Regions from separate parts of the Homo sapiens genome. Here region 1 is linked to region 2. The links come from fine-mapping of genetic effects on gene expression. A gene starts in region 2. The other region holds a variant in brackets. All regions are shown on one strand. Distances are from middle to middle. Region 1 overlaps YWHAZ (tyrosine 3-monooxygenase/tryptophan 5-monooxygenase activation protein zeta). Region 2 holds the start of YWHAZ (tyrosine 3-monooxygenase/tryptophan 5-monooxygenase activation protein zeta).

What was found. PIP is the estimated chance that this variant, and not a neighbour inherited with it, causes the effect.
Region 1: its variant is fine-mapped to the expression of YWHAZ in whole blood (TOPMed, PIP above 0.99). The same link has a PIP of 0.9 or more in T cells, anterior cingulate cortex, blood mononuclear cells, monocytes, non-classical monocytes and regulatory T cells.

The regions. Positions count from the first base shown.
Region 1 is chr8:100,924,082-100,926,581 of GRCh38, forward strand. It overlaps YWHAZ (tyrosine 3-monooxygenase/tryptophan 5-monooxygenase activation protein zeta), which reads right to left. Exons shown (of 6, transcript NM_145690.3): 3 at 835-958; 4 at 54-217. Among named protein-coding and RNA genes, the nearest start is that of YWHAZ, 27 kb to the right of the region's middle. The variant T/C (reference allele first, on the strand shown) is at 1,146.
Region 2 is chr8:100,950,400-100,953,407 of GRCh38, forward strand. It overlaps YWHAZ (tyrosine 3-monooxygenase/tryptophan 5-monooxygenase activation protein zeta), which reads right to left and starts at 1,621. Exons shown (of 6, transcript NM_145690.3): 1 at 1,530-1,621. RefSeq lists enhancers at 1-859, 486-565, 1,718-2,576, 2,856-2,965, 2,976-3,008 and silencers at 146-365, 756-1,525, 1,756-2,015, 2,036-2,715.

The DNA of each region.
Region 1 (2,500 bases), 27 kb before region 2:
GTGCTCAAATAATAAAGACTGCTAAATTTCTACGTAACAGGTAAAATACATACTGTCTTTGCAAGAGAGCAGGCTTTCTCTGGGGAGTTCAGAATCTCATAATAGAACACAGAGAAGTTAAGGGCCAGACCCAGTCTGATAGGATGTGTTGGTTGCATTTCCTTTTTGCTGATTTCAAAAGCTTCTTGGTATGCTTGTTGTGACTGATCGACAATCCCTGGATAAGACACACCAAAACGTACTGAGATAAAGTGTGCATTATATCTTCACCCCTCAAACCAAACCTTTAATATCTCACATATCCTTTGAAATACTAACCTGTAACAGCTTAATATTTGTTAATTGAACAAGGTCCTTTTTTTTTTTTAAAGGGAGCTTTCTCCTGGTACACACTAGCCATTGATCAATGTCAAGATAAAACAACTTTATAATCTCATTATTGTTATGTTTTTAAAAAATTGACGAGTTTTGACATCCCAGACCCAAGCAATCCTCCCACCTCAGCCTCCAGATTAGCTGGGACCAAAGGCTTGCACCACCATGCCCAGCTAATTTTCAAAATATTTTTTGTAGAGAGAGATGTTGCTCAGGCTGGTCACTTTTCTTAAAATCTTGAAAAAACATCCCTGTACACAATATTGGCTTTTCAGAAAGCATTTATTTTAGAATAGCAGTATGAGGCAGTAGATGTGTATTCTCAGAACACAAAGAGCACTGCTACTCCTTATTCGGCACTCTAAGCAATTCAAAACAAGACATTATGTACGCTTCAGAGACTCTTCCTCACTATGTTATCTTATACAAGTTCAACCAACAGGTTTAAAAACAGCATACCTTTCTTGTCATCACCAGCGGCAACCTCAGCCAAGTAACGGTAGTAATCTCCTTTCATTTTCAAATAGAAGACTTTGCTCTCTGCTTGTGAAGCATTGGGGATCAAGAACTTTTCCAAAAGAGACTTAAGAAGAAAAGAAACAGACATAGTGAGAATAAAACATTTACAAAACTGAAAGAACTTGCATTTCTTAAAGAACAAACTATAGCCTAAGTTATAAAACTTAAACACCCAGTCACTGTCAATACAATTGTGAATGCAGCTGGCACATGAATTTGTGGTTTAAAGCAGAATGCTTTGGGCAGCAATA[T/C]TTTAAGTTTGAAGTTAGTGTTCAGTTTATTATTTGAGGACAATAAAATTGAACATTGGTCCCTGACAATGTTATCTATTTACATGCTGACTTCATGAATGTGGGGCATGACCGTTCACATTTAGGAACATTTTCTAATGAGCTGGCAAGCTTTCCATCTGAAGTTTCATGTGGTCATGACATGAAAATAGAAAGAACATACGGGATGAACCTTTTGGGACTCTGGAGAAATGACTAAAGCAGAAACCAATAATGTAAGACACTTAAGGAGTCCATGCCAGAGAAGGAGGAACAAAATAAACTTCATTTATAACAACACAATTCAAGCAAACCTCACAACAGATAAAAAAACCGTTCAAAAGTTTTATTTTTCCTAAAGACAGTGGTAGGAGACTTACAGATTTTAAAGAGCAGACCTTTAATCTCATTGAAGTCATTTTCGGCTAGTAAGATACACGATTACAGATCATCCCAGACAACAGATAAAATTAAAACATCATCCTATAAAATTCTGTCTAAAACTACTATTACAATCTGAGTCATTTGATTAGGATTTTAAAAATTACACTCTTTAACTGATTTTAAAGCAAAAAGATTAGATCATTGTGTTGGGGATGGGAAGAAGTCTCAATAAATGTGTAATTTTTTTCTTTCCAGTTAAGGGGGAGAAAAATAATTCTAGTAGTAGAATTAGGTAAACATTAAAGCAAAAAAACCCCAACCACCCATTCTCACTACCCCACTTCCTTTAAAGTTCAAGTACACTCTGAGAATCAAGGTGAAGTCAATTTTCAGCTGAGCTAAATTCCAAATCCATTCTTACAAAAAAAAAGTATTAGTTTATATAGCACCTACTTATATATAAAATATAAATTTGAAAAATGCTTTTAAATGGTAACTCCAACTTTTTGTTTACCCATTATGTTCCAATGCTGGGTAGGTGAACAGTTTTAACCCAACTTCTTCCCCCAATTTTTTTTTTTTTTTTTTTTACAACTCAAGCTACAGATAACCCAGATGAAGTGGCAGTAGGGCCAGATTGCACTGTGCTATATAAAGAGGTTAAAGGTGAGAAAAGTCAACCTGAAATGATGTTTCCTGCAATTATTAACCGATATTTAAAAATACTGGCCTGAGGCCGGGCACAGTGGCTCATGCCAGTAATCCCAGCACTCTGGGAGGCTAGGGTGGCAGGATCACTTGAGGTGAGCCTCGTCAACATGGTGAAACCCTGTCTCTACTAAAAATACAAAAATTAGCCAGGCGTGGTGACGGGCGCCTGTAATCCCAGCTGAGGCAGGAGAACTGCTTGAGCCCGAGAGATAGAGGCTGCAGTGAGCCGAGGTTGCACCACT
Region 2 (3,008 bases):
CCTTACCTGACTTGAGACGTCGGTTACTGTGAAACGAAAACGGGCAGACCCGGACTTTAAAGTGCAAATTCTCCGGTCCGCGTATCGCAACCACCCCCCTCCAGGCTCCGCCCAAGTCGGAGCCACGGCTCAAGTCCCCGACTCTCCTCCTTTGTCATGGCGGATCTGTGTCAGGGAGCCCAACCTACTGCAGAGTGTTAATTCCTCCCCCCGACCGGAGCCAGAGGGAGGAGCAGCCCGCGCCCCCGCCCAAGCCGTGGGGGGGGGGGAGAGATGGGGAGCGAAGCCGCCCGACCCCGGGGCAGAGACGCCACAGCAGCCCGCAGAAGCGGAACCACTACCAGCCCCGCCGCGGACACACCCCGCTCTCCCACCCAGCGCCTTCCCCGCCACCGATCAGCGCCGGTGACCGTGTACAGCGTCTCTAAGGGACCGACAGCTGCAGGTGGGGGAGGGGACGAGAGCCACACCCAGCCGAGCGGGCCACCAGCGGCTATGCTCAGGCTCACCCGCCCCCAAAGCAGGATATGCGTCCCCAAACCGAGCGCAGGGACCCTCCAGTTCTAGTCCATCAAGCACGGGAGCCGACTGCGGGCTCACCACCCTGTTCTCTACCCCGACCTGGACTTGCAGCCCCCGTCCACACCTCCCCCGCCCGTTCACAAGGAGCAAAAAAAGTCAGACCCATCCCCCACCCCCACCAGGAAAATTCAAGTCCTTCCTCCCACCGCGGAGCCCAGGAAATTCAGCTCTAGGTCCCAGGCGAGCCCCACCCCAAAACCTCACCCCGCAGTGGACTCCCCTCCCGCCGGCGCGCAGCCTCGCCCCGGTCTACCTGGCGGGCGCCGCCGCGCCAGGCCTGGGCTCCGGCCCGCTCTCGGCCAGGCCTTTCCCTCGCGCTTGGGTCCCCGAGGCCCCCGGCCCCTCCCCGCCGCGCCACCGCCTCCCGGGGTGGGGGAGGGCCGGGTCCCGCCGCCGCAGCGCCCAGCGCGGAGGCTGCGCGAGGGGGAGGGAAAGGAGGGGGCGGCCGAGGGAGAGGGGAGGGGGCGGCCTCACCTGCGCCACTGCGATGCCCGCCGCCGCCGCCGCCGAGTCATTATCTCGGGCGGAAGCGAGAAGGGCGGCGAGGGAGGGGGTGGAAGCCCGCAGAGACAAGGGTGGGGATGGATCGCGGCCGGCGGCGCCCCGGCCATGCCTCGTCCACCTTCGGGAGCCGGCGACAGGGAGATCCCCAGGGATCTCGCGTGTGGGCGCCCTACCCACCCCCGGGGGCAGGACGGGGGAGCGAGCACCGATCGGCGCCGGGGCGTCGATGCGGAAGCAAGGAGCCGGAGGCGGCCGCTAGCCGCCCTCCCGAGCCCAGCGGAAGAGGAGCCGCCGCCCGTGTCCGCTGAGGAGACTCCGCCTCAGCCCGGCGCCGCCACCGCGGGGCGAGTGGGGATGAGGGGACGGAGCGAGGACGGCTCCCACGCGTTCGGAAGGCTGGCCTGGGACAGGAAGCGAGGCGCGGCGGCGGCCGGGTTCCTCACCTGTGTCCGGAGTGGGTGGTGGCGGCGGACGGACGGGCTCAGCAGTCTCTGGGCGGCGGCGGCGGCAGCAGCGGCGAGGCTGAGACTCTGTCCCTGGATCTCGCTGCTCACAGGCTACAGCCGCTCCGCAGACACGGGGTTTCCTCCAATCACCAGCCCCGGCAGCAGGGGCACCACACGCACGATGACGTCAAACGCTGCTATGGCAACCGTTGATTGGTGCCCACAGCGATCGGGGCCCCGCGTAACCGCCGCTCCCCGGCGCTCGTCCTGCCCGCCCGCGCTGGAGGGCGAGCGGAGGCGCGCGCGTCCTCGCCCGCAGCCGCCACTCCTCCCACCCCGCTCGGCTTCCAGCTCCTCTACGCTTGTCCCGAGTGCACCTAGGGCAGGAGGCTGCTTTTTTCCTTTTCCTCCCCAACGCAAATCCCCCACTCCTCGCCTTCCCTTTGGGTCCCCAACGCCCTCTCTCTCCCTCTCCCCTGCAGCCTCTGCCGGCCCACTCTTCCTCTCAGCCGGCGGGAAGGCGTTCTCTCCCTACCCCCACCTTAGCTTTCGCTCAGCCCGTCTGCGCTTGCCCCAGTCACTCCCTCTGGAAGGGGCTCCCGTTCAGCAACATCCGGGACCTTTCACATCCCCCCACCCCTCCCCGAGGCCCGGCCCGCCCCACCCTCCGTGCTTCGCGGTAGTAACTGCCCCAGGGCCGTCCCCGGGCAGGATGACAAGGGTGGCTCGGCGGCTCCGGCATTGTGATCAGGACTTGCGGGGCGGGGGCCCCGGGGCGGGGGCAGGGCGCGGTCGCACGGCAAGGGAGGGTTGTGTGTGGTGCGCTGCCCCCCGCCCCGCCCGCCGCTCCCCTTCCCCGGCTGGGCCGACCGGGGCGCGCGGCCCCTCCCGGCCTCCCTCCCGCCGCCGCGGCTTTACCTGCTGGCTCGGGGGAAGCGGTCCTAGACCTTTTATGGCTCGGAAACGGGAGTGAGGCGTCCAGCCCCTGAGTGTGGCTGAGTGATGGGGAGGCGTTCCAATCGAGAGCGCGGGATCTGCGCTCGGTGACTGCGCGAGGGGACAATGGGTGGGCGCCGAGGTGGGGGCGAGGTGGGCCGGGCCGGGCGGAGCCGGCAGGAGGTGAGGCCTGGAAGGAGGCGCGGCCGCTTTAGGGAAGCCAGAGTTCCGAGGGGAAAGGACAGCCTTCTCGGGCGGAGGGCTGGAGCTGGTCCTGGCAGCCTTGACCCGGAGACAGGCAGTCAGGCGTGACCGCACGGACCCGTTTCTCGTAGGCTAGGTTTTCCTACCCAAATAAAGCTTTCACGTGAAGACCTCATACTGCACATGACGATCATTACCTTTTTATCTCCTAGAAGCAAGGTTTGAGGGACGTCGTAGTCCCCAGGGTTCCAGCTGGCGGTGGGAGTGGGCCACAGGCCGGGTGATGAGCCGGGACGGGAGCCCGGAAGAAGGGGAAGGAGAAAGGCGGAAATTGCA